Homo sapiens: one gene and its partners. The protein of the gene in region 2 interacts with the protein of the main gene of each other region in a pairwise test. Each region holds a gene or a part of one and is shown on either strand. Other genes may lie near its edges. The genes, in order: NSG1, EVI2B, FAM3C and FUNDC2.

Region 1 (8,137 bases), on a different chromosome or scaffold from region 2:
CTGGAAGAAGGCAATGTTTTGTTTTGTTTTGTTTTGTTTTGTTTTGTTTTGTTTTGTTTTGTTTTTAGACGGAGTCTCCCTCTGTTGCCCAGGCTGGAGTGCAGTGGCATGATCTCAGCTCACTGCAACCTCCGCCTTCTGGGTTCAAGCGATTCTCCTGCCTCAGCCTCCTGAGTAGCTGGGATTACAGGCACCCGCCACCATGCCTGGCTAATTTTTGTATTTTTAGTAGAGACGGTGTTTCACCATGTTGGCCAGACTGGTCTTGAACTCCTGACCTCAGGTGATCCACCCACCTAGGCCTCCCAAAGTGCTGGGATTACAGGCGTGAGCCACTGCACCTGGCCTGGCATTGTTATCCTAAGAGATGACAGCCCTGTGCCTGTCACTGCTCCTGAAGACCTTCCAGTGGGACAGGGTGTGGAGGCAGAAGGCGGTGATACTGTGGATCCTGACCCTGTGCAGGCCTAGCTAATGTGTGTGTCTGTGTCCTTAGCTTTAACAAAAATGTGTTGGAAGTAAAAAAAGAATTAAAAAATTTTTTAATAGAAAAAGCACATGTAGAAAAATAATATACAGTTGTGCAAGATGTTTGAGCTTTAAGCTAAGTGTTATTACAAAAGAGTCAAAAACTTACATTTTAAAAGTTTATTGGCTGAGTGTGGTGGCTCACGCCTGTAATCTCAGCACTTTGGGAGGCCGAGGTGGGTGGATCACCTGAGGTCAGGAGTTCGAGACCGGCCTAGCCAACATGGTGAAACCCTGTCTCTACTAAAAATACAAAAATTAGCCGGGTGGTGGCGCACACCTATAATCCCAGCTACTCAGGAGACTGAGGCAGAAGAATCGCTTGAACCCGGGAGGCAGATGTTGCAGTGAGTCAAGAACGCACCATTGCGCTCCAGCCTGGGCAACAGAGTGAGACTCCATCACACACACACAAAAAGTTTATGAAGTAAAAAGGTTACAGTGAGCTCAGGTTAATTTATTACTGAAGAAAGAGTATGTTATGAATGGAGTGTAGCCCACATGTCCAGCGCTCACTCGTCTACAGGAGTGCACAGCCATGCCTCGGCCTTCGCATTCACTCACCACCCACTCCCTCACTCACCCACCCAGACCAGCTTCCGGTCCTGCAAGCTGCATTCATGATGGAAATGCCCTATTCAGGTGGACCATGCGTTATAACGTGTTTTTACTGGACCTCTTCTATGTTTAGATACACAAATACTTACCATCGTGTGACAACTGCCTACATTGTTCAGTATAGCAACATGCTGTCCAGGTTTGTGGCCTAGGAGCAGTCGGCCATACCCTCCAGCCCGGGTGTGTAGCAGGCTGGGCCGCGTGGGTGTACAGGACACTCTGTGAGGCTGGCACAATGATGGAGTCGCCTAACAACGCGTTTCTCAGGACGTATTCCCGTCACTAAGTGATGCGTGGCCAGGCCTCCCCTGGCTCCGTCTTCTCTTTCCACCCTTATCTCCCCTCCCTTTAATCCCGTTGCCTTGCATGTCACTTGTGGGCTTTTGGGAATGAGCATTATATATGCAAAGCGAGCATTTCCATGCCTGTAGAGAGCCCAGCACCAGTGTGGCTCCTGCGGTGGGACAGGCAGGAGAGGGACACAGGTCAGGAGGGTGGGTGTGCCCCCCAGCCCTGCTCCCCTTTCCCTGCGTGGCCTTGGGCAAGGCCTTCCTCTCTGTGGGACTTGGCTTCCCCCAGTACATCCTCTCCTCTTTCATGTGGCGGACATGGTCCCGTCTCTCTCCCTCCCTCCCCCAGAGCAATCCGCTGGGATCCGGTAGGTATCATCCTGGGCATTTCCCACGGCAGACCCTGGCTGGGCCCACTTTCGAGGAGGGCCCTTCCCCGGACTGCTGAGGTCAGCTCCCAGGGGCCAAGTCCGGGAGTTTCCTTCCTGTGGGTCTCATGTGCCCCCTGCCTACCTGCCCTGCTCTCCAGGTGGGCCTTCCACAGGGACACTCCTGACACTGGCCCCCTGCTGCTCTAAGGCCTGTCCGTGGGCCAGCTGGGGGAGACGGCAGGAGCAGCCTTGAGTTCAAGGGAGAGAACATGGGGTGCAAAGGCGTCCCAGGGCCTCTGGGGGAAAACGGAGTTTTACCTTGAGGACGAACCCATCGGGGCAGGCGCGGTCATACTTGTACACCTTGTAGACAACCAGGAAGACGACGCAGGTGAGGAAGGCCAGGGCGAAGAGGACCAACACGGAGACCTGTGGGCAGAGGTGGGACTGTCAGGGGTGGCCGGAAGGCAGCAGGACAGACACACACACACCCGCACACGAAGGCCCCCCCCCACACAGCATGTGCAGAGACTATCTCTGGAAGAACCTGGTAAGGGCAGCTAGGCACAAGAGGTTAGAAGCATCACTGTTCACTGGGCAATTTTTTGGTAACATTTTAATTTTTCACCATATTCATAAGTGACATTCATTTTAAATTAGTTATTTTTAGTACCCAAGGTCCTGCATAGAGAGCTCAGGGTACAGATATGAAGAAGCCCCACTGTTGCCCAGGCAGCTCTCGGGCCACTAAGACACATGTGTGAGAAGTGGGGTTGGGCTGCCCACTGCCCCATCACGGCGGTGGTGCATCAGCTACCAGCCAAGCATCCGCTCAGCAAATGTGTCCTGAGCCCTGGGCTCAGTGCTGGGACGCAGTGTCGCATGGACACCAGCCTGCTTTTGCGTGGGACCAGGAAAGACAGAACCTCTGCAGCCCCATTGGCCTTCGCCCTCGGCGGTTTCCCATGTGGTTAATTAAGTGTCCTCAGGGACAGGGATTCGGTTTTCTTCACCATGGTATGCTGAGCACTAGACAGCCCCAGCACACAGTAGGTGTTCAGCTGGTGTTTACAGATGAACTCACGACAGCTGCAAGACAGCTGGCTTGGAGGGGGACAGCCTGCCCCGGCTGGAGGGCACGGGGCATGGGTCACTAGATGACACTGGACCTGGACCTTGAAGGCACTCACCCGGCTGCCAGGGAGCCTGGCAGGGACGAGAGTATGTCTCAAAGCCAAAACGGGCTGGGCGTGGTGACTCACACCTGTAATCCCAGCACTTTGGGATGCCGAGGTGGGTGGATCACCTGAGGTCAGGAATTCGACACCAGCTTGGCCAACAGGGCGAAACCCCATCTCTACTAAAAATAAAAATTAGCCGGGCATGTTGGTGCGCACCTGTAATCCCAGCTACTCAGGAAAGCTGAGGCAGGAGAATCGCTTGAACCCAGGAGGCAGAGGCTGCAGTGAGCTGAGATAGTGCCACTGAACTCCAGCCTGGGTGACAGAGCGAGACTCTACCTCAAAATAAATCAATCAATAAAAAGCTAAAACAGCGTGCAGATGGCCCTCCGCCTGCCCAGAGAGGCAGAGAGAGCGATGGGGCTCCCTGGCCGGGTGGGAGGATGCCAGGTGCCAGCACGTGGCAGGGCCTCCGTAATCGTATGAACATGCACAGAGCTGCTCGCTCCCCACCGCCCCTCCCAGCAGCCTGGAGGATGCGAGGGGCTGGGACTCTCCCCTGGCCACATACAGACCCTACAGCCAACAAGGTTAAAGAACTGGGGAGCTCTGCTGCTTCCTAAGGCTGCAGTCCCGAAGCTCAACTGGGTAGACCCTCCAGCAGAGTGCCCTCCTGAGCCCTGCCCGCTTCAGGAACTCTAGGCTTGGAGTCCCCTAACACCATGCAGTCCCCAGTTCCCATCTGTGATAGGAGACCAAGGGCGTCCCAGGCACTGGTCCTGGGGAAGCAGGAGATGTACGTGAGAAAGTGTCCTATCAGCCGTGCAGCATGGTCACCTGGGAGACGGGCGGCCACCCTGCCGTGAATGCTGAGGCTAACCCTCCTTCTCTTTGGGGGCCCCTATGCACCCCCTGCAAGCCGCTCAGGCCCCAGCACCAGGGCCCAGGGTGCAGATTCTGCCTGCAGCTCTGCACCTTCGCAGCTTACCAGCCTCACCACCTTGGAAGCCCCTTAACCTCTCTGAGCCACAGACTCCTTCCCTATGACATGGGACGACACCTCCACCACGTCCCCGTCTCTGCAAGGCTGCAGATGCCTGGAGAGCCACACTAGTCACTGCAGCTCATCCCCTGCCTCCACTTCCCGGAGGTCTTCATCTCCAGGCCTCACAATTGTCCCCGAGCCTGCATCCTGACTGCAGGGAGCCCTGGCCACAGGACCAGCTGAATGGGGTGGCTCAGAGCTGAGGGACGTGGCCTCTCTGCAGTCAGATTCCTGTCCATTGTGCTGCCAGATTCATTGGTCCCAGGGGCTCTCAGCACAGTGCCCGGGGCAGGACAAGGGCAGCACCAAGACCCTGAGACCCCAGCCCAGGCTGCTCTCGCACTCCGCCTGGCTACCTGCTACATCCCACCGCCCGCCCTCCCATCTCCCCAGCTCAGACCCACTACAACTCCAATGAGACCTGTCCCCTCTGTGTCCCTTCACCTAGGGAGGGACCCCTCAGGCCCCTGGCAGGCAGATTCACATCCCCTCTGAGCAGGCCCATCCTCCTGGTCCCCAGGTCCTGCCAGTTCCTCAGTCACGTCTCCCGCCTCCACTCCCCCAACCCCGACCGTAGGTTGCCTTCTCAGGGCCATCACCCTCTCTAAGGGCCAGAGAAACTCCAGTCCACTGGGATGGCCTACAGTGCATATGGAGCCTGTGCCTGACAAGGGACACAGACAGGATGGAGCCAGGCTGCTCCCCAGGGCCGCAGTGCCCACAGGGAAAGGCGCCGTTTAGTCCAGATCACAGCTGCAGTGCACAGGCCAGCGCACAGCACCTGGGCCAGGGCAGCAGAGCGCAGAGCTGTGATGAAGCAGGCAGAGCTGGCCGGAGAAAGAAGGCGCAGCCGTCTGAGGCACGTGGCAGCCAGAGGCAGTGGCAGGAGCCCAGCCAGGGAGGGCTGCCTGGCGATGATAGCCGCAAGCCCTGATGGTGCCTGGGGTTGGGACAGGCTCTGGACAGGGGCCGGAGCACAGACCCTGCGGCTCTAGCTCACTGGCCGGGAGTCTGGCACCTGGCTCCAGCCTGTGAATAGCAGTGAAAGGAACGCCTTCCAGGGACAGTCACGGGACACTGAGAACAGCACCTGGGTTGGGGGGGAGCATGACGGAGCTGTCTGCTGTCGCTGCTGTTATCCTCACTCTCATCTCCTCACTGGCCCTGGGGTGTGCGCCTGGCAGACAGCAGAGCGGGCTCTCAACCCTCTAACCAGCTGCCCCGTCGCATGTTCACCCGGGGCCAGCCTGCCCGGGCTCCAGCTACCTGCCTTTCTCCAAGTCTACACTGCAGGGCTGCCTCACTCAGGGTGGTCCAGAAGGACTTGGTTCCATTTAACTGGCCTCCTTCGTAACCCTTTGCATTTTATTCTGTGCATCTGAAAACACTATTCTGAGAAGAGAGCCAAGCCACCACAGGTGCAGATGTCCTGTTAGAAGAGGGTTTCAGGGGCAGACGTGGTGGCTCACGCCTGTAATCCCAACACTTTGGGAGGCAGAGGCGGGTGGATCATGAGGTCAGGAGTTCAAGACCAGCCTGGCCAGCATGGTGAGACCCCGTCTCTACTAAAAATATAAAAAATTAGCCGGGCGTGGTGGTGAGTGCCTGTAATCCCAGCTACTCAGGAGGCTGAGGCAGGAGAATCGCTTGAACCCAGGAGGTGGAGGTTGCAGTGAGCCAAGATCGCGCCACTGCACTCCAGCCTGGGCAACAGAGTGAGACTCCGTCTCAAAAAAAGAAGAGGGTTTCAAGTCCTTGAAGAGATGGGGCATCATTAAACCTGTTTCTCCAGTTGGGAAGCCACATCAGTTTGGCTCCTGGTACCCCACCTGTCTAGATTTAAAAAGAACCCCCATTCTCTCCTGCAGGGCTGTGGGGGAACCACCTCCTCGGGGGTGTCCTCCGAAACCTGGCCAAGCCTTTCCTCCAGGATCCCAGGCCCAACGGCTGAGGAGCCAGCCGAACCGTGCAACGAGAATGCGAGAGTCCCTGGAACAGTCAAGGGGAGAAGGGCAAAGAAATACATCCAGGGAGAGTCAGCGGGCGGCCCGTGGTGTGGCAAAGAGCTCCCCTACAGGCTGAGCTCTCTCTTCCCCCTGCCCTGTGCAGACTCTGGAGCTGGGGTCTCCTCAGCCACTGCAGGGCACAGCATGGGGTCCATGGCCTAAGGAGAGAGAGGGCCACGGGCCTCTCCAGAAACTGGCTCGGAATTGAATCCTGTAAGCTGCTGCCTGTGTGATCTTGAACAGGTCACCTGGCCTCTCTGGGCCCCACATCTCATCGCCAAAGTGGGGGAACCATGCCTTACACCCTGACGCATCTCAGGAGAAGGACAAGAGACCACAAGTTGAGAGCACGCTGGGCCCCTCAAAAAGAGATGCTGAAGTCCAGCCCCCAGGATCTGTGAAGGGGACCTGATTTGAAAATAGGATCTTTGCAAATGAGCCCATCAGGGTGGGCCCTAATCCAACCAAACTGGTGTGTCCTTATAAAGAGGGGAAATTTGGATGTAGACAGACACGCATATAGGGAGAGGGCCGCGTGAGGACGGAAGATTACAGCACTGTGTCTACACAGCAAAGCCAAGGATGGTGGCAACCTCCAGGAACTAGGAGGGGCAAGGACAGAGTCTCCCCTGCAGGTTTCCAAGGGAGCACAGTTCTGCCGAAGCCTTGATTTCAGACTTCTGGCCTCCAGTAGTGGGGGAGTAAATTTCTGTTGCTCTGAGTCCCCCCAGTTTGTGGTACTTTGTTATAGGGCCCCTAACAGCAGAGTGACTTCACAGGGGTCAGGACTGGCTCCCCTCCCCCATACTTGTTCTCTCTGCCATTACCCCGTTCCTTCCGCACCATGCCAGGCTGCCCTGCCCTCTCTCCTTGCCCTTCAAAGCCCTGGCCAGGCCCCCTGCCCCAGGAAGGCTCTGGAACATCCCAGCCTCTATCGGGACACCAATCGTGAATGCAGGCACCAAGGAGCCCAGCATCTCTTTTTTCCTAATTAAAGTGAAATAAAAGTGTCACAGTTTGGAGACTTTCCTAAGTCCCTGCCCCCTCCCCATGAGATACTTAGAAGAATTCTGGAACATTGGATGATGTTACTGAGCCAGACATCGGCGTTTCCTCCAGGACCTTGCAGTATCTTTTAAGCTTCCTCTACAACAACATGCCATGATCGGAAGCATCTTGGAGAACCACGACCACCAGCAACTCCATCGTTCAACCAATTTGAAAATACTTGATGGACGAACTAGCCATTCATGCCAGGGACTAAAAGTGAGATAAGCCCGGGTTCCTGGCCTGCTCGGCCACACGCAGTGACCCTGCAAAGGGCATTCGCCCCAACGCCTGGTTTCCTGTGAAAGGGGGATGCCGGCCCAGCACCTGCGTCTATGATGGGGTGTGCAGGAGACCCCATGGCTGGCAAACAGTGGGCACGGTGAGCTGGGTGAGCCATTGTTACCCTATGGGAGCCCCACTCCCACACAATGTTGCAGGCTCCATGCTGGGCAGAAGCTGGAGACCGTCCAATTCAACGCCTTTCTTTACACATAACAAACGCCTTGTCATTGAAAAGGCAGCACCTCCAAGTCGGCCAACAGGACCCAGGTGATCCTAAGAGGCCGGTGTTGGCTATGCAAAAAGAGAGGTGGCGGCCATTCGCAGTGACTCCAGCCTGGGTACAAAATGGACTCAACTGTGGCTGCCAATGAGAATCATGGGAGGCTCTAATGTCCCCATCATCTGGACTCCACTCCAAGTAGCGATAGCGGCATAGCAAGTTTAAAACTCTCCAGATGCCTCCCGCATGTAGCCTAAGCTGGAAGCAAGGGGATAAACAAAGGATTCCACATCTGGGCAGAATTCCTGGGGGCTCTCGAGCTACACCCCCCACCAGACTTTATACTCTCACACCAAAACACTACCATTAGGAGGAGCTCTGGAGACGTCCGCCGCCTTCTGCACTCTGGTCAGCATTTAAAGTCTGCGTACTCCTAACACAACACCTGCAAGGCAGTATTACTGACTGTGTTTTACAAATGGGGAAACTGAGGCTCAGATGTACATGACTGGGCCCAGGCAAACTGGCTGTCGTTGGCTGAATAAC
Region 2 (8,478 bases):
CTAGTGATGCAATCTACTGGAGTGCTCACAGCTACAAGGGAAAGAAAAGATGAAGAAGGAACTGAAAAACTTACTAACAAACAGATAGGTTAGTGAAGAAAAATGCAAAGTAGCAATGAGAAGGCTTATGGAGTAAAAATGAAGTCAGTTGGTATTTAATCCCAAAGTGTTGTTCTGATTATCTAAAATTTGACATGGTAGACCTTGCAATTTAGAATCAAGCAGGTGAGACAGGGAGAAGTATGCCTGCTTAATTATTTAAACTGTGTACTTTTGTTTTGACACTGAATATTTTAAAAAGCAAATAATAAAATAACTAAGCATTTGAGGAAAATTTTAAGGATAAATTGAGGAAACTGATTAATAGAGATAGCAAGGGATAATTAAATAAATATTCCCTATGTAGCAACAGTGGTTAGATGATCTTTGTCTGAATGTAATTAAACTTTGAATAGTTTTAGTGTGTCCTTAAAGCCAAGTATATGCTTTAACATCAAATGGAAGTCAAATTCCTAATGCATAGATAGAGAGAGCTAAACTGTGTAATTTAATGGTATCTTCCTTGCTGGATGTGGCAGAATCCACACCAGCTTATCAACCAACACAGCTAATTTTAGAATAGATCCTTTATCTTTCCATATGGCACACGTAAGAAAGTGTTTTTCTACTATTAATATTAAATTAAAACCTTTACTTTTGTATAATAAATTAAAACTCAGAATAAACCTGTGACCACGTATATTTGCATTCACTTTATTACTTTAGAGAACACATTGTAAAGATCAATAAGAAATAGAGCACAACTAAAATAAATAAGATTTATAGCCACACCAATAGGCTAAGTGTAAACGCAAAGTATGTTTCACTGTTTATGATTAATAATATTCATCTTTTCTATAAATACTACTTACTGGAACATTAACAACAAGTACCAAAGGTTGATTAATTTTTGGACTTCAAGGATGCCAAGTAGCCTAATGATTTATTAGGGGTGTGTGTGTGTGTGTGTGTGTGTGTGTGTGTGTGTTCAAATCTGGAAAACTGCATACTTCAGGTTATAATTTAACCTTTAAAGAAACTGGCTTCAAGTAAAATAATGACTTACATTTAAGTTGAGAACCCCCCCATCTTCAATTAAATATATTACAAAAATTGGTTTGAGAGACTTTCCAAATATCTACTGAAATTAACACAGGGCTAAGATCAGGCCACATTTCAAAAATCTCATCCCTTACTGGGCATTTATTTCGGGCAATATAGTAACCATTTTAAAAATATTTTTTATATGTTTTTTCCCAAGTATGACTACAATCTTACTCTCCCTTCTAAGCTAGTGATTCTTACCCTGGCTGCATGTCAGAATCACCTGAAGAGTTTTTAAAAAACACCAATGCCTAATTCCCATGTCTTCCTTCTGATGCAACTGGAATGGGGTGAACTCTAAGCATTGGTAATTTTTACGTAACTCTCAAGGTGATAACTGCTCTTGGTCATCAAATTCAAACGTCTAGCTATTATTAAAATGAGAGGAAAAAAATAAAGCATCATTTTTATTATCAATTTATTAGCAATTTGTAAAAAACAAATCTATTCTCTAAACGAGAAATCATAACAATATTATTCCAGATAAAGTTAAGTGTTAACAAAGTAAAAAGGAAAGCATGAGAATATTCATGCCAGTCATGGTGACTGAAATCAGGTTATCTTTTGAGGGGAAAAATAACCCAGATTAGAAATGAAACTGGGCAGACTTCCCATTCTGTGCAAAAATTGAAAATTTGAGATTGTGCACCAGTACATCCAGGAGTAACACAAAGCACTCCTTGAATCAAGGGTCATAAATAAACACGTGTCAGAGAAAATTAAAAGAAATTAATATCATCATAAAAATAGGAAATTACTTTCATATTCAACATACTGGTCAAACATTTTCTCACCAGAGAGCTTCTACCACAAGGATATTTAAAAGAATATTTAAAATTCACCACTCACTATCTTGGCTATTAAACATATACTCTCAGAATGGTACTATCCAATGATAGTTACTGAACAAACAGAAGTGTTTCCTTTCCAAATGACAGGTATTTTAAAATGGTAGGTAAGATATCTTTGAGTTCAAAATTTAAAAGTCATTTAGTTTTGAACAAAAACACATTCCCTACCCCTGGGTATTACAGTTCACCAGCTTAATTCAGGGATTTAAAAATAGTGAATCAGGTTAGGCACAGTGGCTTACACCTATAATCCTGGGAGGATCACCTGAGGCCAGGAGTTTGAGGCCAGCCTGCACAACAAAGTAAGAGCCTCATCTTTACAATAAATAAATAAGCCAGCCAGCGAGCATAGTAGCATGTGCCTGTAGTCCTAGCTACTCGAGAGGCTGAGGCAGGAGGATTGCTTGAGGTCAGGAGTTCAAGACCAGCCTGCGCAACACAGCAATACCCTGTCCGTAAAAACAACAATACTTCCAAAAACCAGTGAATCAAAAGCTTTATAGCATTTGATTATATTATGCTTTATAGTAGGAGCCCATAAAAAAAAACTATTCTTTTTGCACCAAGCTATAAGTACCCTGAAGTTAAGAACAAGGTCATAATAACCTGTGTTTCCCGCAGTGACCAGGAAAAAGCAGTGCATGGGTTAACACATTCCGTACCTACTATAATATGCATCATCCAAGGCACTTTACATTTATTTAATTCCACAATAAGCTTATAAATTAGGAATTATGATCTCCATTTTTCAAGAGAGGAAAGGTGACTTACTCAAAGAAATTTTTATTCAGATGGACTCACTCCTTTCAATACACTTTGTTTAGTTAACTTAAAAATTTTTTGTATTTTAAATTTTTGTGGGTACATAGTAGGTGTATATATTTAAAGGGTAATGAGATGTTTTGATACAGTCACGCAACGTGAAATAATCACATCATGGAGAATGGGGTATCCATCCCTTCAAGCACTTATCCTTTGTGTTACAAAGGATCCAATTACACTTTTAGTTATTTTAAAATGTATAATTATGGTATTAATGACAGTCACTCTGTTGTGCTATCAAATAGGTCTTATTCATTCTTTCTATTGTTTTTTGTACCTATTAACTGGTAACACCATCTCCCCAACCCCTCATTACCCTTTAGTAACAAGTTAACTTTAGTTAACTTCTTATTTAAAAAATGATCCCCAATTTATTTTATTTTCCACTGAGAAGTAACTACTTTGTGGGTAATCAAATAAATAGTTGAGAACTTGAACTCAAAAGTCACTAGTAAAATATTTGGTCAAAATAATTTAATTACAAATATACAAATGGCAAACAGGCATACGAAAGGGTACTCAGCACCACTGATGAGAGAAATGCAAATCAAAACTACAATGATACCTCATCTCACCCCAGTTAAAATGGCTTATACTCAAAAGACAGGCAATAACAAGTGCTGGGAAGGGTGTGGAGAAAATGGAACTCTCGTACGCTGTTAGTGGGAATGTAAATCAGTAAAACCACTATGGAGAACAGTTTGGTGGTTCCTCAAAAAACTAAAAATAGAGCTATCATATGATCCAGCAATCCCACTGCTAGGTATATACCCAACAGAAAGGAAAACTGTACAAAGAGACATCTGCACTCCCACTTTTGTTGTAACACTATTCACAACAGCCAAGATTTGGAAGCAACCTAAGTGTCTATAAACAGATGAATGGATAAAGAAAATATGGTACATATACACAATGGAGTATTATTCAGCCATAAAAAAGAATGAGATCCTGTCATTTGCAAAATAATGTAATTATACTTTTACCCTGGACTTTTTATATTATGAGGAAATAACATTACATTTATTGGTTACCTGCAGTTGGTGAGGCATTTATACATGTTATATTATGCTATCTTATTTAATCCTCACAATAACCCAATAAAATATTCCTTTAGAGGAGGAAACGGTGACTCAGAAGTGCAGAGTCTTGCCTAAGGTCATACAAGTAAACAGAACACATCACTCACTTCTTATGAGAAGAAATCTCACTGTAAGTGATAACCCAACTGGCAGCTTTTCTTCTTAGAACATGTAATTTTCTCTTCGGGACTCCATCCTAAATATTTAATTTACATAATCATATTACTAGAGTATCTCAAATATTTATTTACATAATTAAAAGCACTCAAATCATAGGGCTCCAAAATGTATTTCAAAATAAGTTCTGTTAAAGTAATATATTTCTTAGTCACTTTGTGGTTTATTGCACTTCCGGAACCAGCTATTGATAAACTTCCTCTTTTTCTACAGAAACTATTTCAGTTTGCTAGAGGAACATTTTAAATCTGAATTGAACCACCCATTTTCCTTTCTTAGCCAAATCACCAAAATGTCCAGTTAGAACAAGAATTTAGCATTCTGCAAAAGAAGTTAACAGCTGAGGTAAGAAAATTTTCACACAATTTGGTTTGATCTTGCTTTATATAAAATTTATTTTAAAAACTGTCATTAGTGTTTTAAACTTAAACTCTGATAGTCTAAAGATGTCTATAACAGGTTTTTGTGGTTTTGTTGCATAGAATTAAAAAATACTCAGTTCAGCTTGCCTTAGAAAAATATTTTCACCTAGGTTTGTATAAGACCTTTTAAGTTTATTTAATCTCACACACACACACACACACACACACACACACACACATATTTTTTTTTTTTTTTGAGATAGAGTCTTGCTCTGTCTCCCAGGCTGGAGTGCAGTGGCACGATCTCAGCTCACTGCAACCTCCACCTCCTGGGTTCAAGCAATTCTCCTGCTTCAGCCTCTCAAGTAGCTCGGATTACAGGCGCCCACCACCACGCCTGGCTAATTTTTTTGTATTTTTAGTAGAGATGGGGTTTCACTATGTTGCCCAGGCTGGTCTCCTACTCCTGACCTTGGGTGATCCGCTTACCTCCGCCTCCCAAAGTGCTGGGATTACAGGAGTGAGCCACCGCTCCCAGCCACAATCATATTTGTTAACCTTAGTTTTAGAATTAAAAAGAAACTATAGCCATGGCAGATAAAGCTAAGGGTTAGAAATAGAACTAGATTCCACAGGCTATGACTGAATTTATAACCTCCAAAATATTAATTGTTAAAAGTTCTAATGTACTTTTTATAGAATTTTCCTGTACATAATATAATGCATAAATTAAAATTTTTGTATCCCCTTTAGTTTGCATAGTAAGAATGGTCACTTTCACTTAATTTAGAAAGAAAAAGAAATCAGATGTGGTATTTGACTATTATTATTATACATGCTTTATTTTTTACATATAGATTTTATATTTAATAATGATGACATGAAAACATTATGGCTCATTTTAAAAGCTTACTAAGCCAAAAATGTTAGTCAATAATCAAACATGCATGCGTATATTAATATCATCTACGTGTTTATGTCACATTATCTGAGACTTTAGAACATAGTATAAGATAGAAGAAACCTATAGAATAAACAATAGAAAATTGTTAATATGCATAAAAGATGCTTGCTGTGGGTAAAATGGGCAAATAAAAACTGCAAAGAGTATTTTACATAGACTTGTAATTTCAGGGAATAATATGTTCATAGTGGGTGATATCCCATTTCAACACTTAATAAATATTCATGACTTTCTCTTAGAAGGATTTCTTCTAAGTAATTACTGTGGAAGTCAGAAAATAAAGATATTTATCTCTTTTTCAGATTAGGCTTGTCTATATATTTTTCTACTTCTAATATTTAGTTTATTTCATTATGCATAAAGTCATAAAATTATATTAAATTTTTTTCACTGTCATATTTCATAAAATTAAAAAATTTCCCATCGATCCTTATGGTGTGTTTTTGTCATAGAATCCCATACTTTTTTTTTTTTTTTTTGAGATGGAGTCTCCCTCTGTCACCCAGGCTGGTGTGCAGCGGCACCATCTTGGCTCACAGGCTCACTGCAACCTCCGCCTCCCAGGGTCAAGAGATTCTTCTGCCTCAGCCTCCTGAGTAGCTGGGATTACAGGCACCCACCACCACGCCTGGCTAATTTTTTGTATTTTTAGTAGAAACGGGGTTTCACCATGTTGGTCAGGCTGGTCTTCAACTCCTGACCTCAAGTGATTGGCCCACCTCGGCCTCCCAAAGTGCTGGGATTACAGGCAGGAACCACTGCGCCTGGTCCCATACATGTTTTTAAAGGGTTAGTCCCAAATCTAAAGTTTACTAGTAGTGCCTGTGTTTTCCAGCTAATTCCCACATAATTCTACTTAGAAGGAAACTTTAATTCTGATTAAGTTTGAATTGAGAAACATAAATCTGATGCCTTTCAATGTCCAAGCTTTAAAAAAAAAATCACCACAAAATTTTCAGTAAACTTACTAAATATGACACTTTATAGAAACCATTCCAAATTCTTATAATAGTTTTCGTAGAATCAGGACTAAAATGGGTTTTCAGGTATTTCTTTCCTACCCTTTATCTAAGACTACCTACAAGTGTTATTTACGTGTAATTCCCACCAACTCACATCTCCTTCCTTCATAAAGCATTTCTATTTCATAACTTTTCTATGAAAGGCAGTATAGCACATACAGTGAAATGTGATAGAAAGAAACGGTTCTGGCACAAGATTAGCATGATTTTTGTATTAGTGCCACTACTTAGAGCTGTGATACTGCCAAGTTACCCAACATCGTGGTGTCTCAGTTTCCTTATCTGTAGGATGAAAAAACCACCACCTAGCTAATTAAAATAGGATACTGCTTAGCCTTTGGTGGGTGCTCAGTAAATGGTCACTATCATGATACAAGATGGTCATCAAATACTTCCTATTGTAGTTGAAGGTCAATTTCTCTTTCCACTTTTCCTCAAGATGCAGAATGGCTGGTTTTTTCTTTTACGGTTTCAAAACTTCACTAGTTAGAGATAATACTACTGCTAAATTTTAATCTATTATATTTGCATCACAACTTTTATTATATCAAAGTAATTGATACAGCTATCTATACTTGTCTTTTGTCTAGGATATGCTCTCCAAATCTTGATTCTCTTTAAAAGATAATGGCATACTTCCTAACATATCCAACTTAACAGCATCAATTTTAAATGCTGGACCCTTTAAGTACTTATGCATTATATTTATAAGAACATGTCTATGGCCGGGCTCGGTGGCTCATGCCTATAATTCCAGCACTTTGGGAGGCCAAGGTGGGTGGGTCACTTGAGTCCAGGAGTTCAAGGCAAGTCTGGGTGACATGGTGAAACCCCATGTCTACAAAAAATACAAAAATTAGTTGGGCGTGGTGTAGTGCACCTGCAGTTTCTAACTTCTTTAGGGAAGCTGAGGTGTGAGGAGGATCGCTTGAGCCCAGGAGGCAGAGGCTGCAGTGAGCTGAGATTGCACCACTGCACTGCAACCCGGGTGACAGAGTGAGACCCTGTCTCCAAACGGAAAAAAAAAAAAAAAAAGAACATGTCTTATACACGGGGACTCCTGCTTCACTGTAACTGTCTTTAAAATGTTTAAATTTATGTTTTTCTTTTTAAAATATTCTAAATATTCAGCAAAGAAAAAGAACCAAAATCACAGATTTAAACCTCAAAGTGCCAGCCTATAATAATGAGTAAAAACCGGCATATGAGGGCTGACAAATTTGCTTGAGCAGCAGACTAAGGGATTTCTGGAAAACTCTATATAAAACGTACACGGGTACATGGGTTCTTTGGAATAATTGCTAGGTATGCTTCTGGATAGTGTCAGGGAAAAAAAAAGGGAGAGGATGGTAAGGATACTCACAGCAGACAGGAGAGCCTGAAATGAAAGGTAAATGAATTTGAAAGGATGGTTCCTTCTGGTCCTCCATTTTAGAAAGCAAGCTCCTCTTTACTGTCTCCCTGCACTCACAAACACAGGCCAGCCACAACAGAGCAGCATTTTGCCGTTGCTTCTTTCATCTACTTCAATCATCTCCCCCCACCCCCAACTTCATTTTGCCTACTTCAATCATCTACACTGCCTTCTTGCTAATTATATAACCACTGCTTTTTTTTTCACCTGTTTATTAACTTTTCTTCTTTTCTGTATCTTCTCTAGTCAATTGACCTTCCTCTTTTCTGTTCGCTGCTTCCTAGAGTTTTTGTTTTTTCTCTTTTGTGTTATTTTGTATTTCTTTGCATTGCCTTTTATATTATTCTAAATCTCCTTTTTATTCCCCTGCCCAATATTGTTCTTTACCTACAGAAACAATGTTGGTACTTCAGGTACACACCACTTACATATTTTAAAATGTGTATGCTAAATAACCTTCCACACTGGTAGTAACGCTGGCCTCATTACCGCTGGGAAAAAAGTCAGTTTTTTCCACTACCATATTCCCTATTTATTCCTCTTTTAAATCTTTCTTCTCCTTCTCTGGACTACACTGAATTGCCATCATAGAATTCTAATACAGTTTCTAGTACTCTGATGTGGCAGATCCTAGGAGGATAAAA
Region 3 (8,137 bases), on a different chromosome or scaffold from region 2:
ATGCACATATGTGACTACACGTGCACACACTTGTCCTTATATAGACAGAATTATATATACACATAGGTACACAATTTATTATAAACTACTAAAAGATGTATAGCACACAATTTCATAAATAAAATCTACGATGTACTTTATTATAAATCTCAGTCGATTCTCACAGAGTATTTTAGTTGATTTTTCAAACAATTCACATCTGCAGCTGAACTATGGTTGCAATTGATGAATGAGCTCAGTTCTAACAAACGTTGGATCTATGTTAATAAGATAAAATAAAGAAAAACAAATAATGGAGATTCATGTTCAAATTCCACTTGCCTGTCAATGATGACTGAATCAGATAATAAGTTTTAAATATTGGAAGACTACTTCCTACATTTTTGGTGCTATCCACCATATAATAGATATAGATAGGACATATTTTTCAATTTAATCTGTGTAATATTTTCTCCCTCACCTCAAGTCTAGAACTTGAGTCTGCAAACTTTTTGTGTAAAGAGAGAAAGCACTAAAGAAGCTATAGGGAGATACATTCAAAAACACTATAAATAAATCAAAAGAAACACTTTTTTAAAATGTTTATGTAACTCATAGGAAGGCAGGAAAATGAGAAAATGAAAACAAATAATAAAATAGACTTAAACCCTCATATATTAATAATTATAATAAATGAAAATAGTTTCAACATACCAAATAAAGACAGAAATTGGCAAAGTGAATTAAAACAGGAACCAACTACACACTGTCTACAAGAAACTCACTTTAAATATAATTATATAGGCAGTGGAAAGTAAAAGGGTAGAAAGAGACATATCATGCAAACATTAATCAAAAGAGAAATTACAATTCAATTATAAAGAAACAACCCAATTTATCAATGGGCAAAGGGTTTCAACAGACATTTCTCCACAGAAGATATACAAATGGCCAATAAGCACACAAAAACATGCTAGACACCACTAATCATCAGGGAAATGCAAATGAGATTTCACTTCACATCTACTAGGCTGGCTATAATCAGTAAGTCAGATAATAACAAGTGTTGGCAAGGATGTGGAGAAATTGGAACCTTCATACACTGCTGGCGGAAATGCAAACAGATGCAGCCACTTTGGAAAACTATCTGGCAGTTCCTCAAATAATTAAACAGAGTTACCACCTAAAACAAAATCCACTCCCTGGGAGTATAAAGAAATCAAAACATATGTCCACATAAAATGTGTACATAAATGTTTCTGTAAATGTTACTCATTATAGTTAAAAAGTGGAAACAACTCAAATGTCTACCAACTAATGAATGAGTAAACAAAATGTGGTATATCCATACAATGGAATATCGTTCAGACATAAAAGGAATGAAGTTCTGATACATGATATAACATGGAGGAAGCCTGAAAACATTATGGTAAGAAGCCAATCACAAAAGACCAAATATTATATACCACTTATATGAACTGTCCAAAATAGGCAAATCTATAAAGACAGAAAGGAAACTAATGGTTAACTTAGGGTTTGGGGGTGGGGAAGTGGGGCAGGACAAGAAAGGCATAGAAGGATATTAGCTAAGGGGTACAGGGTTTCTTTTTGAGGTATAAAAATTTTCTAAAATTGACTGTGGCAGAGATTGCATATATCTGTGAATATAATAAACCACTGACTGTATAATATAAATGAGCAAAATGGACGGCATGTGAATTATATCTCAAAGCTGTTTAAAAGTACTAGCTTGGAGCATATACATTTAAAAGGTTCTATGCTTTACTACTTAACCATTGGCTCAGCTGCATCAAAGAGAAGGAAGTTTCAAAATGTACTGTTCTGTTTCTTTCAGAAATACATTCAATAAGTAAACTCCATCATTAAGAAGTAACTGCTGTGATTAACGGGTTAAGTGCCAGAGTGACTTTTCCAAGTAAAGATCATCAAGGAGTATGATGTGGCATTTTACAGACTGAAATCTATCATAAAGCAAAGAAATAAAGGTAACAAAGAAGCACAATGACATAGGCTTCCCACAAGAGGGCAGCAGCTTATCAATTTTTAAAAACTGAAATTCAAACAGAAAATCTCTAACAAATAAAAAATCCACTGAGATTTAAAATGTATAAAGGTTAGTAACCCTTACTAACACAAGTTGAAATATTTTCTTTTATCCTTCATGAATATAAGGTACCCCTTCCCACATCTCTAGGCAAAATTCTAAAGGAAATGATTATATCATCTGTAGAAATACTCAATATATCCAAATATAGATTTGTTTCAAATAGCTACTTCATGTCCTAGTTATTAGTTATTATCTCTTAAGATGGTTAGTTTAAAGCAGGGCTTGGCAAACTATAGCTCACGAGCCAAATCCTGCCAACTGGTTTTTTGATTTGTTTTACTACTCATGAGCTTAGAATAGTTTTTACATTTTTAAATGGTTACATTTTAAATGATTATGTAAGTACATACATAATAACCTTGATTTTACCTCTTTGCCCTCATAGCCAAAAACATTGATCCCTTGTTAAAAAAAAATCCCTCAAAATAATCTCATATTCTTGCAGCAAACATTACCATTAAAATCAAAAGTAATGAATTATTCCTAATATCAAATTCATACAAATTGAAATCAAATGAATATATGCCTTAGATGAAAATTATAATTGGAACATAAGTTAGTTCTATGGGTGCTCTAACGAGAAAGAAAAAACCTGTAATCCCAGCACTTTGGGAGGCTGAGGTGGGAAGACTGCTTGAACCCAAGACTTCAAGACCACCTTGGGCAACACAATGGGACCCCATTTCCACAAAAATAGAAAAATTAGCTGCATGTGGTGGTATGCGCCTGTAGTCCCAGCTACTCAGGAGGTGGAGGTGGGAAGATCGCTTGAGTCCAGGCATTCAAAGTTGCAGTGACCTAAAATTGCGTCACTGTACTCCAGCCTGGGCAACAGAATGAGACCCTGTCTCTAGGTAAAAAAGAAAAGAAAAAAGAAAAAGTAAAGGAAAAAAAAAAGCTGCAATTACTGTTTTTCCTGAGACCTGAGGTTCATACCTGCGATTTTCTAACTAATGAGACATTTAAAACACATCTTTATCAGCATAATGTATTTTGACTTCAACTACTTATGACCACCATCCTAATTGTAATTATCACCTGTCTGTATCAGAGTTTCTCAAACCCAGCCTCTCATTTTAAGAGCCTGATAATTCTTGTGGATGAGCTGACCTATGCACTGAAAGATGTTTAACAGCATCTCTGGCCTCTACAAGGAGTACCTCCAAAGCTATGACAACCCAAAATTACAATGTTCCCTGGAAAGCAAAACTGCCCCCATTGAGACACACTGATCCAAGATTAGTAGTCTCCAAAGTGAGTTACATGTACTCAGAGCAGGTGCTGTGAAAAGACTAAATTCTCTGCTTGTGTTATTTTTATTATCTACTTATAGATTTTAGTGAATGTATAAGCAATAAAGTCTGTTACCAACAGGGAGGCAGTATGAAAGTGCTGTGGCAGTAACTGGCAATGGCCTTCCAATTGTCCTCTCTATTCCACTTCCTTAATTATTTTACACAGCAACCAGATAACTTTTTTCAATATAAATAAAATCACGACATGCCAGAATTTGAAATCCTTCCACAAGTTCTCAATACACTCAGAAAAAAGTCTCAACCCTTTACCTGCGTGGCCTACAAGTTCCTATGCAGCCTGGCCCTAATTCACTTCTCTCCAGAGCTATCCAATCTTAGGGCCTTCGAGCAGGCTTCTTCCTCCTGCTCGAAGACCAAGGATGGTCTTCCTTTCTATCCCTCAGATCTCAGAATACACATCACTGTCTTAGAAACTGTTCCATAACCCTCAATCTAAAAGTTAGACACCTCTTTCCATCCACTCTCGCCAGTACTCATCACACCCTGCTGCCCTGCAGGGCTGGTATCACAATTTGTTTGTTCATTTTTTGTTGTTGTTGTTGTTTTTTTTTTTTTTTTTTTTTGAGACAAAGTCTCGCTCTGCCGCCCACCCAGGCTGCAGTGCAGTGGTGCGATCTTGGCCCACTGCAACCTCCATCTCCTGGGTTCAAGAGATTCTCGTGCCTCAGCCTCCCAAGTAGCTAGGATTACAGGCCCATGTGCCACCACGCCCGGCTAACTTTTGTATTTTAGTAAAGACGGGGTTTCACCATGTTGGCCAGGCTGGTCTCAGACTCCTGACCTCAGGTGATCCACCCGCTTCGACCTCCCAAAGTGCTGGGATTACAGGCATGAGCCACCACGCCCAGCCTGGTGTCACAATTTATAAGTACGTATTTTTTTTAAGCATCTGTCACCCCTACTAAACTGTAAGTTCCATGACAGGAGGGATTATGCTCAAAAATACTTGCTGAACAGGTGAATAAATGACTCTCAGAAAACTTAAGACTCTTTCTTTGGACTTTAACCTGAGGCTTGGGTATAAAATCCCACCAAGTATTTAATCTCTCATGGTAATGGCAGAATGGTTCCTGAAATAAGGATGGATAGGTGGCCTGCCTCATTTAATGGTTAAAGAAACTGAAACACAAATGCTACATGACACGCCCACCATGCTAGAAGCAAATTCTCTGGCTCTAAGCCCAGTATGTATTTTACCAAGCTCCACTGTCTATGCACTGTTCGCTTTCTGACCTTAGATCTTTAGCTGTTCAACATTAGGCTGAGGGATAGAGAACAGCTTCTAAGACAGTGATGTGTACTCTGAGAACCAAAGGTCAAGAAGGAAGACAGCCAAGTGAAGAGTGAGGAAAGACCATCCTAGACAGAAGAGTATACTCTAAGGCCCCAAGATCAGGAAGATCTGGAGAGAAGTGAATAAGGGTCAGGATGTGGGTAAACAGTTGAGCTTTTTTTCTGAGTGTGTTTTGTTGTTTACGGTTTTAATCTGTGAATAAAAAACCTGCTAGTAAACAGTCTGATCTCTTCTTCTCTGAACTAAAATTCACATGCATCAAGGGGGCAGAATAGATGTCCAAAATCATCCATGGGTTAGGTATTCTAAAAGAACTTTGTTCCTGTGATTTAGAATCAAATTTGGGGTCTATTTAACCAAACAAGATAAAGAGTGGAAATGAGAATGTTTTCAAAAACCTACAAACTTCTAAAATGCAAGTGCCTTATTATGCATCAGTAAAACAGGACTATTCTAATGAGAAATCAGAAGACAAATGGATTAACAATAAATCATCATTAGAATACGGGAAAATAAAGGAAATCAGTACAGACCTTAATGATCATCTAGCTCAAGCCCTTAATTTTACAAGAAAAGTGTTGTCCCATGAAGCTCAATAAACTTCTTACAGCTAACTGCCTGCAAAAGAGGCTAGGATAAAAATTTAAGAGCTTCAATATTAAAAAGAAGAGGCACATAAACAGCTAGGAAAAGCTGCCTAGGTCTCCTCTTTGCTATAAAATTATCTCTTTATTCTATATAATTCGTGACAAATTTATTATTTTATATTAAATTTAAATAAGCCCCCATGTCTAGTTTTCTAGGCAATAGCATATTAAAAGCAACCAACTAAAAGTAGGATTTGCAATTTCAGCAGCAGGAACTTGCGAGCAACAGTTGACACTGAGGTAGGATATCAAAAATCCTAAAAACCATCCTTTAGAAAGCATCTCAACATAGGAAACCATTCAGCTTAGAGGCAAGCAGTTTGTGCTGCAATGGAACTGAGGTTATCACTGGATCATTTCACACTTCAACAAGTAGCACTCAAATATTTTAAATGAAAGACGTTGGATTTCATTTAAAATAAAGAGAACACATTCATTGTCCAGGGCAATGTTGCAAATAGGATTTCTGCCACGATGAAAATGCTCTCTCTGCTGTTCCATTTGGTGACCATGAACCACATGTGGCCACTGAACACCTGAACTGCGGTGACAGATACCAAGGAACTGAACTTTTTAGTTAATTTAAGTGAATTAACTTTCTTCCTAATATTTAAGGATCAAAATTAAATAGCCACATGTGTTCTGTTGCTAGCAAATGGGACAGTGCAGATCTAGAGAATTTACTCAGAGGAAATCTCTTATCTCTATAAAGCCGAATAAGTGTTACGTTCTTAGTCACTCTCTAATATAAAATTTAAGAACTTTAAGGTCCCTTGAATTCATGAGAAAAAAACTACATAACAAAAATGGAAATCACTTTCCATTAATAAAGTATACCGAACACATTTTCAAAATATCCATTAAACTCAGGTTCAATTGGCTGCAATTTAATAGCACACCTTATCGTCTCAAGTCAACAAAGACTTACACATTATCTTCCAGGCAGATTTTGGGTCCCACCACGTTGGCTGCTCCACTTGCCATTTTAAAAGCAAAATGCTTCTCAGGGCAAGCTTTTGAGATCCCACACTTATATCTGGGAGGCTTTGTAGCTTTGGGGGAGAAAACATGATGTCTTTTTTTAGAAAACAAGTTAACAGACTTTACCTCACTTTACTTCAAATCTCAAACCACAAAGAGCATTAAGAAAAACATCAAGATACACGTATCTTAAAATACAAGCTAATTTGTTCCCCTGAGGGTTTCAAAGAACCTCAAAAAATTTTTTTAAAAAAAAACAGCAACAAAGAAACCCACAACAGACACCAGATCTTCCTAGGAAACAAACTAATAATGGATGCAAATGAGTCAAGTAATATGATCTGCATTAGGGCAAATATATTTTATCTAACTATGAGTTTATTTTTAAATTTTAGGATGTGGGGGGTTCTGAATGTTACTTTGCACTTCTAGTCCATATATGCACAAAAAATCGTCACCTCCAGGATAATTAAAAAAGGCCTAATGTTCCATTGACTACCTTGCCCATGTACACTCTTAACTCCTTCTCACACCAATTTCTGTACTTATAATAACGGAGCTAAAAAACACAAAATATCCATCATGAATAATTGCCAAAAATATTTGGGCTGTCCAATCAAATAGCATCCTCATAACTTTAAAAAGCAATTTCTAAAGCAGTTTTTCCTCATACTGAACTACTGACACTTTGAATATAAGCTCTCATATGCCTAAGGCAGAATAAATCATACATAAAATATTGAGATGAAATACTTACAACGTGCAGCTGTGTCCAATGCTGATCTTGCTGAAAAAAAAAAATTACTTTTGTTAGAAGGAATGAGTCTATTGGCAAGTATCCACTTTTAAAATATATTTAGGTCCACAAAAATAAGTGTTCAAATAATGATTCAGTATACAATAAAACATGAATATCACTTAAGAAAAAGTGAGAAAGTAACTTCACACTGTACATTCATTATAAACTATTAAATAATTATGGAGGATAGTATTTTACTACTGATAAAACATTTTATTTTTCCCTTACCATTTTGTTTTGAATTTTAGTTACTATATATTTAAATTTCAATCAGGAAGTTACTCTACAAACTTACCTTTCAATGTTTATAAATATAAATTTGGTGAATATGATGGTGTTTAAAAGTTGTTGCTGCTGTATGGTGTTGTACAGATACGCAAAGAAAGCCCCAGAGAATATACATGAATCTATCTTAGTGGTGAGGTTAGGAGATTGCGAGGGCCAGGGAGGGGGATGAGGAAGATCATTACTAAAAGATTTACAATTTATCAGTTCAAGGAATCCATGAGGTCAAATCTTAATTTGAATGTAGTAGTTCTCAACCTGACCATCTATCATAATTATAGTAGGGCTTTTTAAAAGCACTAACATCTGATCCCAGCCCAGGAGATTATAACTCAGATCATCAGAGTATTGTGGACAGCCATTTCCTGATTTGACTAATAAGTATGCAGTGTGATAAATGTTAACCAGCTGTCTTGCTATAAATAGTCACACAGTTTTTAGTTCTGTACTATTTTAGATAATTGTGAACTTCCTGTAGGTCCAATACTCCAACTAGTAAGCTGAAAGTTAAAAGATTGTATTGAAATGTTTAAAAAGAGGAAAATGACCAAGTAAATAAAAGCTCATTAACTCAATAGAACACTCAGTAGAATATTATGCACCATTAAAGCCATAAAGGTAATATAATAACATTGAAAAAGCTTAATGCCCAGAACAAAGCAGAAAAGAAACCTTATCTACACTTTACTGGGATATAATTTTGGGAAA
Region 4 (8,137 bases), on a different chromosome or scaffold from region 2:
ACAAGAAATGAGAAACAGATTTGTTATTTCTTTTAGTCAGGATAAATCCTGAAGTAGACTCTCGAAACCCTCTGACTTTCCATTTTTGGAGACATCTGCCATTTGATTCTTTGTATCATGATGACATCTACTCAGCATCCCCCCTATATGCGAAGCCATATGCCTGGCACTAGAAATAACTACTGGCAATTCTTTTAAATTATTTATACTCTTACAACCCTTTTACAAAGAGTTACATAAGATGAAAATCAAGGTGGGGGGTCAAGATGTAGGGTGAAGAGATGGACCTTACAGCCAATACAAATGTTTCCAGAGAATGACTCTGACAATGTGCCCATGAGTGTCAGTTTCCTGACAATGTGAACAGAGCAAAGCATTCAGGCAGTTATTACTGTTGCTTAACAGGAAGAAATCTAGCATCTGGCCCCACAGAGATTTCTCATGAGCAAGTTCATATAAACGGATATTAAGAGAACCACATCCAAAGACACCTACAGCATATACCTATTTCCCTTGATAAAAACAGCAGGCACAAACACTAAAACTCAGTGTAAATCTGATTCAAGCATGTAGATTTTGATGATGGATTAATATCATCCTAGGAATGAAGAGAATGACTGTAGCCAATCAATCAATGCCCTATCAATATCACTTCTCTCTACCAAATTTTTGGCAATCTCAAAATATCTGAAACTAAAAGTCTTCACCTTGCTAGAGTCTCCTCCTGCATTGTTGCTCTTCCTCTAGGCCCTATTTTAGCTAATGGCACCACCAGTCACCCAAACAGACTAGAGAAAATACTTGTGATGTGTATCATAAACAAAACATTGATACTCAAAAAAGTGAACTTCTTATAGAGATCAGTAAGAAAGTTCACTTTAAAAATGGGTAAGGGCAATTCAGAGGAAAGTGTCCACAAAAAGGAAAAAGTTCAACTTCACAAGTAATCAAGCCATAGTACCTTTATTTATGAGTCTATAACTGGAAATACACAAAAGTCTATCAACACATGAATGGATAAACAAATTGTATCATATTTACACAATAGAATATTACTTAGTACTAAAAAGAACAAATTACTTACAGCAACCACATAGTTGAGTATCAACATTTGTATCTAAAAGAAGGCTCTGGTTCATTTACTCCACCCTGTTTATCCCACAAAATCCTGCTATTAAACTGAGAGAATACATGGACTAGCTATTTGAAGGCTCTTACATAAAAACAGCGACGTGCAGATTGGAGAAGACCAGAATTCAAAGCACCACCAAACTGGTGGCGTGTTTCCTGCTTTTCCTGCAGTATCGCCTGGCCTAACCTCAAGGCAGGACTCAAGAAACATCTGACAAAATTCAACGCAAATTCATGATAAAACTCTCAGAGAAAGAGCAATAGAGGGGAACTTCCTCAACTTGATAAAGAACATCTACATAAAAAACCCTGCAGCTAACACTGTACAGAATGGTGAAAGAACGAATGCAGGGAACAAGGCAAAGCTGTCCGCCGTCTCCACTCCTATTAAATATCGTACCAGAAGTGAATTCAGAGTCAGCACAACAAGGCAAGAAAAAGAATTAGGAGGCATCCTGATTCACAAGGAAGAGGTCAAACTGTCTCCAATCATAGACATCTTTGTCTACATAGAAAATTTCATAGACTTCAACAAAAAACAAAAACTCCTAGACTAAAAAAGTGAGTTTAGCAGGGTCACAGGACACAAATTCACACAAAACCAACTGAATTTCTATATGCTAGCAATTTGAACTGGAAATGAAAAATGTTTAAATGATTTACAACAATGGGTGCAAAAAATAATTAAATATTAGGTACAAATCAAATAAAACATACAGGATCTGTATACTGAGAACTACAAAATGCTGAAGAAAGAACTCAAAGACAACCTAAATAAATGGAGAGACACATCATGTACATGGAATGGAATACTCAACACAGAAATGATGCCCAGTTCTCTCCAAATTATCCATAGATTTACTGCAATCCCAAATCACAAATCCCAGTAGGATTTCTTATAGATACATAAATAAGCCGGTTCTAAGATTTATATGGAAAGGCAAAGGAACTGGAATCACCAAAATGAATCTGAAAAAGAACAGAGTTGGGGAAATCACACTACCTGATTTAAGATTTACTATAATGCTACAGTAGTCAAGACAGTGTGTCATACTGAAGAAGAGATAGACACACAGACCAACAGAACAGAATAAAAAGTACAGAAACGGACGTGGACAACTACAACAAACTGATTTTTCACAAGGGGGCAAAAGTAGTAATGGTGGTGGTGAAGTCCCCTGGGTGGCCCAGGCCAGGATTGCGAGGTGACTTCCTGCTCTCCTTGGCATTACTGGGGGACTGCACTGCAGGGGCAAAGCAACACCAGAACTGGGAAAAGCAGCCTCTCCCGCTGCAAGGTCCCTCCAGCGCCCTCTACTGACAAAGCTCAACATCCTACTTCCATTGCAGCACAACAAGTAGAGGGAGCCGAATAAACTGAAAACTGGCAAGCGTTGCTGCTGGGCTCTGAAAGCTGCAAAAAGTGCTGGAAATGATCTACAGCTTGGTAAGAAAAAGCAACTACATTCATAAAGACGTGAAGGAAAAATTTCACTGTTCACAGATGGCATAAAAAGATTTTATAGACAAAACCCAAAAGAATCCCAGACAAGACTTTTTTAACAAGGTGGCTGGCTGAAAGAGCAACATAAAATATCAACTGTATTTCAACACACTAGCATGAATCAGAATGTGTAGTTTTAAAAATCGTATCATCCACAAGAGCAACTAAAGTTATAAGGTATCCAGGAATAAAACTGAATCACAGATGTACAAGATCTATACGGAAAAATAATAAAAAGTCTATTCAAAGGCATTAAAGAAGACCTAAATAATTGGAGAGAAAGCCCGTGTTCACAGATAGAATACTCAATATCATAAGAGATATCTACATGGTTCCAATGCAATTCCGATAAAAATTTCAACAGGATTTTTGAAAATAACTGACAAGTCTGATCTAAAATTTAGATGAATGAGCAGAAACACAAAAGTAGCTGCAACACTCCTGAAGAATAAGGTGGAGGAATTTGCATTACCAAATATTAAGCTTTAGTACTGTCATAAAGATCGAAAGTTGACCAGTGGAACAGAACACAGAAACCAGAGTCACAGCCACACATACATGGGTTCTGATATATGAAAGAGACAATGCTGCAAATGTTGGGAAAGGGAAGAATTATTCACTAAATTCTGCTCAATTATCAGTATGGAAAAAAGGAAACTGGATCCCTATGTCAAACTATAACTTGTGATATAACTGATCTCCCAACATTATGCTTGCCTCCTGCTCTCACTCCCCTGGTGACAGATAACATGAGTGCCTGCCACAGATTCTCCATGTCTCACCTCTGCAGCAAAGCAGTGTCCCTGTACCCCTTGAATATTGGAATTATCCAACCCCAAAATCTCATTTTGAGGTGCCTTTCTGGAGACATTTTCAATACCAATTATTTCTGTCAGGGCCCCAAAACGAAACAGAGGACACACTCAAATTAAGACATTTCAAAGCAATATTAAAATGTTTATGAAGTTTGGGGCAGCATATAAGGGAAACCACAGGGATAGAGATGTTACTGCACTTCCACCTGAAGGGTCAAGGGGAAGGAGAGAGAGGTGTGAGGAGGGGCCCCACCTTGCAGGGAGTCTGACCTGTCTAGCAACAGAGCCAGCACGTAACAAGCCCACAGGGAAGCAGCCAACAAAAGTGAGGCTTGGGCAACAAAGGAGATGCAACTTGCACCATGTTTCTGCAGAACTGTGCTTGGGAGTCCTGAGGTCATGGTAGTGTGAGGAAGCCTATACTGGCACAGGGACCACATGGAAGAGCACTGAGACTATGGACAGGGGGGAAATAAGGAGAGGAGGAGGGAAGACAAACAGAGACAGAGACACAAAGAGGCCCCACAAGTCCAGACCTACCCTAACCCTCTGATCATCTGGCCTGTAACCACATGAGACTCTGATCCACAAGCACCTACCTTAACCCTCCCCAAACTCCTGTAACCATGAGAGAGAATAAAGTGATCATTATTTGAAGCCATTAGGTTTGGGGGAATTTGTCATGCAGCAATACCACACTCAACCCAGCTACAGCCAGTTACCAGCTTCCCTCTTCGATACATTTGATTTTCACCTGACCTATCTGCAAAACTCACTCCAATCATGGTGCTAATGCAGAACTTACCTTGCAAAAGTGAGGGTTGCCAACTGTGGGAAGAGACAAACGGCTGTGAATTCAGAGACTCTGGCATGATTCAGCAAGTTATGGCTCCCACAGCACAGCAGAATCACCTCAGGAGTTTTAAGTTTTCCAATGAAATCAGACTGTGGGTCAGGAGTGGCACACGTTGGCTCTTTTAAAAACTCCTAGGTGATTCCAATGTGGAGCCAAATTTGAATACCAATGCCACAGAGCTAAGAAATGTATGCCTAATACAATCAAATGTCAGTTTTCTTTTGTTTTTGGAGAAACTGCTCCCTTTTTCAAGTCTTGCTTGTTAGTCTCTCCTAAGCAGTCTCAGAGAACTGGCAACCACTGGTTCTGAAACTATGGGTCAAGGAGACAGCAGACGACATCTGACTGTACTGTCACTTAGCTCCCATTTCTCATCACATGCTCAACATCCCCTCTGTGAAAGCTAGCTATAATATTAGCATATGACACTAAATCATCACAGCACACTTGTATTTTTGAAATCACATCCGCTTAATAATTCAGCTGGTCTTAAAAACTCTTTTAAGGGAGCTATGATAAGGAATTTGCACTTCTGTCGCCACATGAGGAAATAAAATGGGACTGGCAAATAACATTTACTAGTATAATGAATAAAATTTGACTCAAACGGTCACTAGCATTTAAAATAGTACATGAAAACAAGTGCTAAGGCTAGTCTAGTGTGACATAGCCAGGACTGTATTACAACTCCCCACACCACATTCCTTAATGGGCAGGTGGAATTTCCAAACATCTGAGAACATTTCACATACAGACCTGAAGGAGAAAAAATCCACCTCCCACAGCTGTTGCAGCCAACTTTCCAACCTTCTGGAATATGAAACCTGTGCACCTACAAAAACAAACCAACATCAGACAAATTGATGAGCTGTCAGTTACATACAAACATGCATTTCTGGCAATGTTCATATCTTACTTAGCTTAAGATGACCTAGCTCCTTCCTACCCCCTACATAAAGCCAGCCCCAAGAGGAGCATGACATAAGGAAATCAAATCTTGGCTCTATGAATCTTGTGGTCTTGAGTAAGTCCCTTAAAACTCTCAGGTTATATTTTTAAAAGATGACTCTGGCTACATTGTGGAGAAGAGATTAAAGGGGGAGGACGAAGGCAGAGACTCTAGTTAAGACGGTGAGGTAGCGATCCAGAAGAGAAGTGAATGCCAATGGGCCGAGGTAGAGATGGCAAGGAGGGAGCAGACCTGAGGAACTGTTTGTGAAGAAAAAAAAAAACACTCCTGAGTTTGAGGACAGGATGGTTGCAAGGGATAAGGCACAAGATTCTGTCCTGAATGTGGCATTTTTTACAATATAAAAACAAGGAAGAGGAATAGAGGAAAAGGTGGGGGAAGGGAGGGGAGGAGATAATGTCATTTTGAATATGTTGAATGCAAAATGTCCATATGATATCTGAGTGGCAACATCTTGTAGCCAGTTTAATATAATTATGTGTTTCTTTATTACTGTCTATCTTCCTGCCCCCACCCGATACTAAAATGTAAGCTTCATGAAGGCAGAGATTTTGTTGTTTCATTGCTGAACACCTATCAGCTGTAATCATTAACCATTGTTGAAAAAATCCTCCCTAGACTCCAATTCTCCAGCCCCCTTCCCTTTTCTGTGCTCTCCTTTACAGCAAAACTACTTTGAGGCCGTCTCTTTTGTCCTGTGTCCATATTCTCTCACACCTACACCATTCAGGCTTTTGTCCCATGACTTCAATGAAACCATTCCTATCAAGGTTACCACTGATCTTGACCTTACCAAATGCTAGTGTTCACTTCTCAGCTTTAATCTCATCTGACCTACAGCAGCTTTTGACACAGTTGATTACTCTCTCCTTTTTTTAAAAAAGGTATTTTATTGTGTATATTTGAGGTTTACAACATGATGTTATGGGATACATATAGACAAGTAAAGTGGTTACTATAATGAATCAGATTAATATATCTATCATCTCACATAGTTACTTTTTTGTGATAAGAGCAGCTAAAATCCACTTAATTCACAGAAATCCCTAAGGCAATACAATTGCATTAGCTGCAGTCCTCATGCTGTACATTGGATCTCTCGACTTGCTCCTCTTACATATTTGCTACTTTGTATCCTTTGACCCACATCTTCCCATTTCCTCCCATCCTATCCCTGGTAACCAGTTTTATTTCTTTATATTTATTATATTATACAACTGTATATATGACTTTTTCCCCACACATATGAGATCATGCAGTATTTTGTCTTTCTATGTCTGGCTTACTTCACTTAGCATAATGTCCTCCAAAATCTATGCTATGGCAAACAGCACAATCTCCTTTTTTAAGGCTAAATAGTATCCCATTGTAGACACATTTTCTCTATCCATTCATCCATTGATGGACACTTAGGATGTTTCCATATCTTGGCTACTATAAATTAATGCTGCACTGAACATGAGAGGGCAGATATCTTTATGAGGTGGTGATTTCATTTCCTTGGGGTATATACTCAGAAGAGGAATTGCTGGGTCGCATGGTAGTTCTAATTTTAATTTCTTTAGGAACCTCCATACTGTTTTCCATAATGGTTGTAACAATCTACATTCCCGCCAACAGTGTACTAGGGTTCCTTTTTCTCCACACCCTCATCAACAATTATCTCTTGTCTTTTTGATAACAGCCATTCTAACAAGTGCCAGTTGATATCTCATTGTGCTTTTAATTTGCATTTCCCTGATAATTGATGATGCTAAGCATCTTTTCATATACCTCTGGTGGCCATTTCTATGCCTTCTTTGGGGAAATGTCTGTTCACGTCTTTTCCCCATTTTTTAAATCAGGTTATTTGTTGTTCTGCTATTGTACTCTCTCCTTCTTGACATCTTTTTGCTCTGGAATACCATTCTCTCTTGGTTTTCCTCATATATCACTGGCCATTCCTTATCAGACAATTTTGCTGAGTCCTCCTCTTTCTGACTTCTGAATGTTAGGTTGTTCTGAGGCTCAGTCCTAGAACCTCTTTGCTCTGTGTATTCACTTTCTATCTGCTGGGTCTATACCATGATCTCTGATGTAGGTTACTGTTACAGCTCCTCATCTGGACTTCTTACCTCCACTTTCACCCCCTAGAATCTATTCTCAATATAGCAGCTCATACAGTCCTAAAACAGGGGTCGACAAACCGCAGCCTGGGAGCCAAATCCTGCCAGATGTCTCTTTGTAAATCAAGTTGCAACAGAGATTGTGTGATCCATAAAGCCTACAATATTTACCATATGGGCTCTTTACAGAAAAACTTTGCTGACCCCTGCTCTAAAATGTAAGATCAAGGTACACTTCTGCTCATAACCTTCCAGTAGCTTCCCTCCTCACTAAGAGAGAAAGTTAAAGCCTTACACTTAACATCTTGTCTCCCATTACCTCACTACCCTCATTGTCTACTGTTCTCCCCTTATTACATTTCAGCTCAGTAAGAGAAAGAATTACAAATACAACAATGCATGGAGAACCTCATAAGACTTTTAATCTTTTTTAAACAAAAGTTAGATGTCAGGCAGTATATTTCTGAAGCGACTCTGAAATTGGAAGGGTGGTAGGACCAGTAAATAAATGATAAGGGTCCATTTTAAGAGCATTCCACTGTTCAGACTTACTAAAGTATAATCAGAGTAACTGACATATTTAGAATGGTTACAGATTTTTGCTGTTACAAAAATTGTTGCACTGTTTACAACACCTGGCTTTTTCTCTTTTTAAAACAAAACACACATTTTAAATAAAGCCTAATAACAAAGCAAGACCCAAAAAGATCAAGTGATTTCTAAGTAACTGCATCCAAGAACAAGAATCAAGCACAT

What was found.
Region 1: the proteins of EVI2B (region 2) and NSG1 interact in binary tests that used the Homo sapiens proteins (3 or more experiments, as listed by UniProt).
Region 3: the proteins of EVI2B (region 2) and FAM3C interact in binary tests that used the Homo sapiens proteins (3 or more experiments, as listed by UniProt).
Region 4: the proteins of EVI2B (region 2) and FUNDC2 interact in binary tests that used the Homo sapiens proteins (3 or more experiments, as listed by UniProt).

The regions. Positions count from the first base shown.
Region 1 is NC_000004.12:4,403,672-4,411,808, reverse strand, and holds part of NSG1 (neuronal vesicle trafficking-associated protein 1), read right to left. Parts: intron 2,237-8,137; coding exon 2,126-2,236; intron 1-2,125.
Region 2 is NC_000017.11:31,309,918-31,318,395, reverse strand, and holds the start of EVI2B (protein EVI2B precursor), read left to right. Parts: upstream 1-4,341; 5' UTR 4,342-4,417; intron 4,418-8,478. Other genes in the region: protein EVI2A, read left to right, coding at 1-93. UniProt on the Homo sapiens protein: Required for granulocyte differentiation and functionality of hematopoietic progenitor cells through the control of cell cycle progression and survival of hematopoietic progenitor cells.
Region 3 is NC_000007.14:121,365,008-121,373,144, forward strand, and holds part of FAM3C (protein FAM3C precursor), read right to left. Parts: intron 7,133-8,137; coding exon 7,103-7,132; intron 6,417-7,102; coding exon 6,293-6,416; intron 1-6,292. UniProt on the Homo sapiens protein: May be involved in retinal laminar formation. Promotes epithelial to mesenchymal transition.
Region 4 is NC_000023.11:155,043,510-155,051,646, reverse strand, and holds part of FUNDC2 (FUN14 domain-containing protein 2), read right to left. Parts: intron 5,139-8,137; coding exon 5,063-5,138; intron 1-5,062. UniProt on the Homo sapiens protein: Binds directly and specifically 1,2-Diacyl-sn-glycero-3-phospho-(1'-myo-inositol-3',4',5'-bisphosphate) (PIP3) leading to the recruitment of PIP3 to mitochondria and may play a role in the regulation of the platelet activation via AKT/GSK3B/cGMP signaling pathways.